Linked DNA regions of Homo sapiens. The protein of the gene in region 1 interacts with the protein of each later gene in a pairwise test. Each region holds a gene or a part of one and is shown in the gene's direction. Other genes may lie near its edges. The genes, in order: DRICH1 and MYOZ2.

The links.
Region 2: the proteins of DRICH1 (region 1) and MYOZ2 interact in binary tests that used the Homo sapiens proteins (3 or more experiments, as listed by UniProt).

What each region holds. Positions count from the first base shown.
Region 1 is NC_000022.11:23,611,709-23,615,629, reverse strand, and holds part of DRICH1 (aspartate-rich protein 1), read left to right. Parts: intron 1-1,415; coding exon 1,416-1,495; intron 1,496-1,898; coding exon of another isoform or gene 1,899-1,937; exon of another isoform or gene 1,938-1,969; coding exon 1,970-1,991; intron 1,992-2,299; coding exon 2,300-2,341; intron 2,342-3,921.
Region 2 is NC_000004.12:119,145,654-119,149,574, forward strand, and holds part of MYOZ2 (myozenin-2), read left to right. Parts: intron 1-597; exon of another isoform or gene 598-3,921.

The sequences.
Region 1 (3,921 bases):
GTTGCCAGTTTGATAGCAGTTCTTGTGAGTCTGTAGATCATCTGTGTAGTATTGTGTGTTAGTCAGGTTTAGTCTTCCTATCCATGAATACAGGATGCCTTTCCACTTATTTGTACCTTCTTTACTTCCGAGGATCTTCATGTTGACAGCTGATAATTAGATTTAACATGACTGATAAAAATTTTTGGTTTCTTATACCAATATTTTATATGTCTGAATGAATAGGTATCAAATAAATATATATGTATATTTTGAGATGGAGTTTCACTGTTCTTGCCCAGGCTGGAGTGCAATGGCGTGATCGCGGCTCACTGCAACCTCTGCCTCCAAGATTCAAGTGATTCTCCTGCCTCAGCCTCCTGAGTAGCTGGAATTACAGGCACTCACCGCCATGCCTGGCTAATTTTTTTGTATTTTTAGTAGAGACGGGGTTTTACCATGTTGGCCAGGCTGGTCATGAACTGCTGACCTCAGGTCATCCACCCACCTCAGCCTCCCAAACTGCTGGGATTACAGGTCTGAGCCAGAGTGCTCAACCAAAAAAATAATTTTTATATAAGATAGCTAACCAAAAATCACCCCCATACTCATGGACTTTTTTTCATGAATTTGTTCATTTGTATTGGTATACATTTCCCCAGTTCAGTAGATAATGTATATTTGAACCTGGAAACTTATCCTCATGGCAGAAAGTGTTCAGAGTCACGTCTCTCAGCTTCACTGGTATAGTTAGAGCAGGCTCTGTGGGCTTGGCCTGTTTGAATGAAGCCTGATTTTTAGGGAATCTCCTCAGGGAGAGTGACACAGGAGCTGCTGTCCAAAAGTGTGTGTAGAAGTTGTTCCAGAAGAAGACTTACAAAGAGGAAATCATGACTATTTTTAATTGTAGCATTTTAATATTGAATTTTTAAAATGATCTCTATGAAAAAGAAAGTGTCATTAATAGAATAATTTGGGTAAAATTGAGTCCATTTCAAAATAAAATATGATTTTAAATAAGTAATAAATCCTTTAAAAGAGATGCTAAATGTAGTATCAGCATAATTAGATCCTAGTGTACTGACACAGTCTTGAATACGTTAAGAAAATCCTGTTGGTTTTGAAGAGTTTCAAAACATTTGAGAGGGAGGAAGGCACTCTTCCACTGACCCTTAGTGTGCATTTTACTTACATTTGGGGGTGATTGTTTTGTGTTGCTTCCTGATGCCTCTAGTACAAGGCCAAGGCCTCCATGTCTCATGTCTTTCATGCTTCCCTTCTTTGCCATCCCTCTTCCACTCAGGGGAATAGCCCAGCATCAACTCAGTCCATGCTTGTTAATCAACCACCTCCATACACCACATCCAGCAAAGCTCCCCGAGTGACTCAGAGTCACCAACCACCGGTGCACTGATCTTTCCTCTGTGTCCTTCCAGCTTGTTCTGAAGATAGCCTGTTTTTAAGATGCTCACTGAGACACAAAGATGAAGAAGAAGAAGATGATGATGACATCCACGTAAGACCTCCCTTTTTTTGTCTTCTACAGCAATGTTGCTTTCCTGATTCCTTTATTTCTCAATTAATTTTGATATGAAAATCTGGCAATGCACATTATGTACACTGTACACTATTCTCTTTGTGGGGCTGGAATTCCATAGGAGTGTCTTCCCAACTTATATGTGGTCCACTAGGGTGCTTTTAAATGACAGCATCCATTATCAACTGGAATACTGAGGCATTTTCCACAACAACAGTTTTCCACCTTGAATTAAGCATTGTGCATTTGCATATAAAATTAAAGGTAAATTCTACAAATAGAGGTCTTGTTTTTCTATAGCTATCCTCTGTGCTAGTCTTTGGGGGACTTTGACCTATGGCTCAATCACTATACTGCCTTCTGGTTTTTTATCGTTGTCCAGAGAATAACAGATCTGTGTGAAGCGCACAGCAGAATCTGATTTTCATAATGTTTTCTTTTATATAATTGCAGATAACAGCTCGGATAGAAAGTGGTATGTACCATGAGATAACTCACTTCCTGAGGGAAAAAACTTGCTAGCTTCAGTGTATAGAAACCTGATTCTGGGGTCCTGCTGGGAAAGAGGCTTGGGGTTCTCGTGAAAGTGATTCTGCCAGTATAGAACTCTGGCCTGAGAAGCTGTAGGAAGGTTTGTCGACCCAGAAGAAAGATTAGGGGATCATGTATGAAGCAGCATGGAGTGGGAGACTAGCTCATCACTCAGCTTCAGCTAAAGTAAAGTAGGAGGAGTGGGTGAGTCACTCTCTCTAATGACTTATTCTGGTGTTTTTGTTTCTAAAGACTTGACGCTGGAGAGTCTAAGTGATGAAGAGATTCATCCAGGTAGGGAACTACGTGCCAGCAAAAACCCAATGGGAAAAGGTTCCCAGGAGCCTCCAGGTTATCCCTGTTGCTTGTGAGGAGGGGCTGAAGGAGGGGGTATGAAATCAGAAAGAAAATGGAAATATGTGTGAGGTCTGGCTTGTTGTTTTCAGAGTTTCTTGGCATCATGGTAAGAACTGTCTCTATGGGCTATGAGGGTGCTGCGTTCATGAGAGATTATCTTTGCAGTGCACCTGCTCTTTTGTGCCCTGTGGAACATCATAGCCTTTGGTTTGGATTAGTCAACACTCCTTGGGAGTGGGCACAAGGGGTATAGGCCTAAGCACTGGGTGTCATCTGTGATGAAGGGAATCTGGGGGACACAACTCTCTCACAGGCATTTCCTGGAACCTAGAGAAACAGTCCTTGTGCTGTGTGCCAAGGGGAAATCGAGAATCACCCTCTGAACTTTCAGGACTTGTTAGTGCACATTCATGTTTCTGTCCTCACTGTGCACTCCTGGTTTAAAGGGATCTCCCGGAGTGGATGGTGGAGTGAATATTCACTCTGGGGTCACTGGTAAAACTCCAGTCTCCTTTGAGGGGAGGAGAAAAGTTTGACCTTGAGCACTTTTCCAGCCTCCACTGCCCAACCCAATCACAGATTCTGAGATGTGGCTTCTTTCTCCCAGTTCTCTAATTTTTTGGGAAGCCAAAAGTTCCTTCCCACAAAAGATAGTATCACACTATTTCCTGTCTTCAAAAATTTGGCTTTGGTTTTGTTCTCTAAGTTGCTATTCATCACTTAAGTTCTAGACTTTTTTTTTTCTTTTTTTTTTTTTTTGAGATGGAGTCTCGCTCTGTCACCCAGGCTGGAGTGCAGTGGTGCGATCTCGGCTCACTGCAAGCTCCGCCTCCCGGGTTCACGCCATTCTCGTGCCTCAGCCTCCCGAGTAGTGGGGACTACAGGTGTCCACCACCATGCCTGGCTAATTTTTTGTATTTTTGGTGGAGACAGGGTTTCACCATGTTGGCCAGGCTAGTCAGGAACTCCTCAGCTCAGGCGATCTGCCCGCCTCAGCCTCCCAAAGTGCTTGGATTATAGGCATGTATCACCATGCCTGGCCAGGGTTATTTTTAATGTAATTGTGGCTATCTCAAGTAATGGTGCTTTGAGTATTTTTGTCAGTGGTTTTGGAATAACACCAGCACTCACTTTTGTGGAGTAGACTGTTAGAAGGGGGCATATCTTTCATTGTTATAAATAATGCCAAACTTTTTCCAAAATGATGACACCAATTCATGCTCCTCTAACAGCATATGTGAGTAGCCGTTTCTCCAAATCCTCACGGACTCTTAGTTTTATCTCTTTCTAAAAATTCCATCACTGTGGTTAGTCTGTCATTTGTATAACATATTACTTAAAATGTTCTCCAAAAAGAAGTGTTGTTTTACTGTAATGACGCAGCGCAGTAGGTTTGTTTACACCCGCCTCACCACAGACACGTAAGTAATGCACTGCGCCGACCTTCTAACAGGTACGACTTTACTGGGGAAAAGGAAATTTTCAGCTTTGTTATAATCTTATGGGACCACTGTCAT
Region 2 (3,921 bases), on another chromosome or scaffold:
CGTGAGCCATCCCACCTGGCCTGTCTGTGTGTGTTGTCTTTCTCTGGCTTTGGTATCAGTGTATTATTACCTTAATGAAATGAACTAGGAAGAACTCTCTTCTATTTTGGGGCAGAGATTATGTGACATTGGTGATAATTGTTCTTTAAATATTTGGTAGAATTCTCCAGTGAAATGATTTAAGTCTGAAGCCTTTTGTGGGGTGAGGAGATTTTTAGACTATAAATTGAATTGCCTGAATAGTTATATAATTAATCAAGTACTCATTTCATGTTGGGTGAACTGAGGTAATTTGTGCTTTTTGAGGAACTGGTCAATTTTTTCTAAGTGCTCAAGTTTATGTGAATTTATATGTAGAATTGTTTGTAGTATTAATATTCTTATTATCTGTTTGCTATCTGCAGTGTCTGTAATGATATCTCTGATTTTGTTCCTAATATTGTTAATTTGTGTCTTCTCTATATTTTCCATGTTAATCTTACTAGAGATTTATCAATTTTACTGATCTTTTAAAAACCAGCTCCATACTTCATTGATTTTCTCTGTTGTTTTTCTGTTTTTTATTTCACTGGTTTCTGCTCTTATCTTTACTATTTCTTTCGTTCTGCTTGCTTTGAGTTTATTTTGTTCATCTTTTTTTTTTAGATTTTTTGGGGTAGACACTTATTTATTGATTTGATACTTTTTTCTTTTTTAACTGTGCATTTAGTGCTATAAATATTCCTCTCAGCACTGTGTTGACTGTTTCCCATAAATTTTGATATGCTGTATTTTCAAATTCGTTTAGTTCACTGAATTTTTAATTTCCTTTGAGACTTCCTTTTTGTCCCATGAACTATTTAGAAGTATGTTGATTAGTTTCCAAGTGTTTGGAGATTTTCCTGTTATCATTCTGTTACTAATTTCTAGTTCGGTTTTATTGTGATCAGCGCTAACAATCTGAATAATTTAACCATTTTAATTTGTTGAGGTTTATTTTATAGCCCAGGATATGGTCTATCTTGATATATATTCCACTGGCACTTGAAAGAAATGTGTGTTCTATTGTTGTTGAATAAAATATAAATGTCAATTAAGTCCTATTCGTTGCTAATATTGTAGAATTTTATATTCTTACTGCTCTTCTGCCTAGTTGTTCTATCATCTGCTGAGATGGGGGGATTGAAGTTTCCAACTATAATTGTAGATTTGTCTATTTCTCCTTTTAGTTCTACTTTTTTACTTTAAATATTTTATAGCTCTGTTTTTGGTGCATGTACATTTGGGATTTCTAGGCAATCTTTGTGGATTCGCACTTTAATCATTATATAATGCCCTCCTCTGTTTCTGGTAATCTTTGTTGCTGTGATTTTATCTGATATTAATATCAGGTAATATTTGGTTGATGTTGCTTGATATATATTTTTCCAATCTGTTACTTTCACTTGCTTATAATGTTATCATAGGCAGTGAGTTTCATGTAGGCAGCATCGTCCAACAAACCATAGTTGGTTCACCTTTAATCCAATCTGACATCAATTGATGTATTTAGATTATTTACATTTAATTTATTAATGTCTTAGAGCTTAAGTATGTAATTTTATTTTTAGTTTTCTATTTGTCATCTCTGTTTTACATTCCTGTTTTTTTTTTCTGCCTTCCTGGAGATTACTTCAGAGTTTCATTTTGGTATAGTGTTTTCAAATGTATCTGTTCATATAGCTTTCAGGAGTTGCTCTAAGTATTGCATTATATATGCATAACTTATCACAGTCTACTGATGTTGTCATTTTACCAGTGCAAGTATAGAAAATTTATCTACTTTTGGCCAGGCACGGTGGCTCATGCCTGTAATCCCAGCACTTTGGGAGACCGAGGTGGGCGGATCACTTGAGGTCAGGAGTTCGAGACCAGCCTGGCCAACGTGGAGAAACCCCGTCCCTACTAAAAAAACAAAAATTGGCTGGGTGTGGTGGTGGCAGGCACTTGTAATCCCAGCTACTCGGGAGGCTGAGGCAGGAGAATCACTTGAACCTGGGAGGCGAAGGTTGCAGTGAGCCAAGATCGGGTCACTGCACTCCAGCCTGGGTGACAGAGTAAGACTCTGTCTCAAAAAAAAAAAAAATCTACTTTGATGTCTTTTTATCCTCTCCTGTTTATAAAATAATTGTCTTAAGTATTTCTTCTACATACATTTACATCAGTCAGTATTATAATTTTGGCTTCTACAATAAAATATAATTTAGAAAGCCCAAGAGGAGAAGGGAAGCCTATTGTATATAGCTATATTTCTGCTTACTATATACCTTCTTTATCTCTGATGTTCCAGGCTTCCTTCTTTTATTGTTTCCTTTCTGTTTTAAGAAAACTTCATTTAGTCATTCTTTTAGGGTAGGCTTTCAGGCAACAAATTCTCTTAGTTTTCCTTCATCTGAGGATGTCTCAAGTTCCCCTTTATTTCTTGCAGGATATATTTCACTGGGTATGGGATTCTGGGTTGACAATTCTTTTCTTGCAGCACCTAGAAAAATATGGTACAACTTCCTTTTGGCCTCCATGGTTTCTGATGAGAAATCCACTATTATTCTAGTTATTTTCCCCTTATATAAGTAAGTTGTTTTCCTCTGGTGGCTTTCAATATTTTCTCTTTGTCTTTAGTTTTCAGAAGCTTAATTATAAGTCTTGTTGTGAGTTATTCAGGTTTATTATGTTTAGGGTTCTCTTAGCTTCTCGAATCTGTAAGTTTATATCTCTTGTCAACTTTAGGACATTTTTCAGCCGTGATTTCTTTAAGTACTTTTCCAGCCTCCCCTTATTTTTCCTCTCCTTCTGGAACTTCAATGACATGAATGCTATATCTTTTATTAGAGTCCCATGAATCCCTAAGAATACCTCGTTCATTTGTTTTCAAGTCTATTTTTCTCTGTGTTGGTCTTATTGGGGAAATTCTATTCTAACAGCTAAGTGATTTTTCTCATTTGCCCCCTCTATTTTACTATTGAGCCCATTCACTGAGCTTTTTACTCAGGTTATTATATTTTGAGTTCTAAAATTTTTGTTTTGTTCTTTATATCTTTTATTTCTCGACTGAGATTTTTTTTTTTTTTTTTTTTGCTGCTGCTGATGGAGTCATTGGCAAAAAAAAAAAAAACCTTTCCATTTAAAGAATTTGTTTCAAGTGGTTTCCTAACTGCTTTCTGAAGCATTGTTTTAAATTATGGGTACTTTAAAATATTTGTCAGATAGTTTTAATATCTCAGTCATCCCAGTGTTGGCATTTGATTTTTTTTTTAATTTTTCATTCAGTTTGAGATTTTTCTAGTTCTTTGTATAAGTGATTTTCATAATATATATAAGTGATTTTCAATTTAAGCCTGGACATTTTCACATTATGTTCTGAGATGCTTGCTCTTTAAATAAACCTTCTTTTTCATCTGTTCTTATCTGACACTGCTCCAGCAGGAGTGCCAACTCATTACTGCAGGTGAATGTAGAAGTCTGGGTTCCCTATTTGGCTCCACTGAAACTTGAGGGGAGCCTCTTTGTTATTGCTGGGAGAGGACAGGAGTTCAGACTCCCACGTAGTCTTCACTAAGACTGCGGAGACAAGGAGCTAGTTACTGGCCAAAAGGAATGAAAGTCCCAACTTCCCACTCGGTCTCTCTGACACCACCCTAGTGGGAGTATTGGAGAAACTTGTTACAGCCTCACAGGGTGAAATTCTGGGCTCCCCACAAGATCTTAACGTGGGTGAGAGCGAAGTCAAAGTGTTTTCTGTGGTGGTTGGCTAAAGTAGCGCAGCCATTGTCTAAACATTTTCTGTCTTGCAGAGGCAGCTCCTTTCCTGGTCCTTTAGCTGGAGAGAACAGCCTTTCGTTGGTGCTTTGTCTGTCTGGACCTCTTGGTGTTTCTGGGTTGCCATCATCTTCAGCTTCAAGTCTG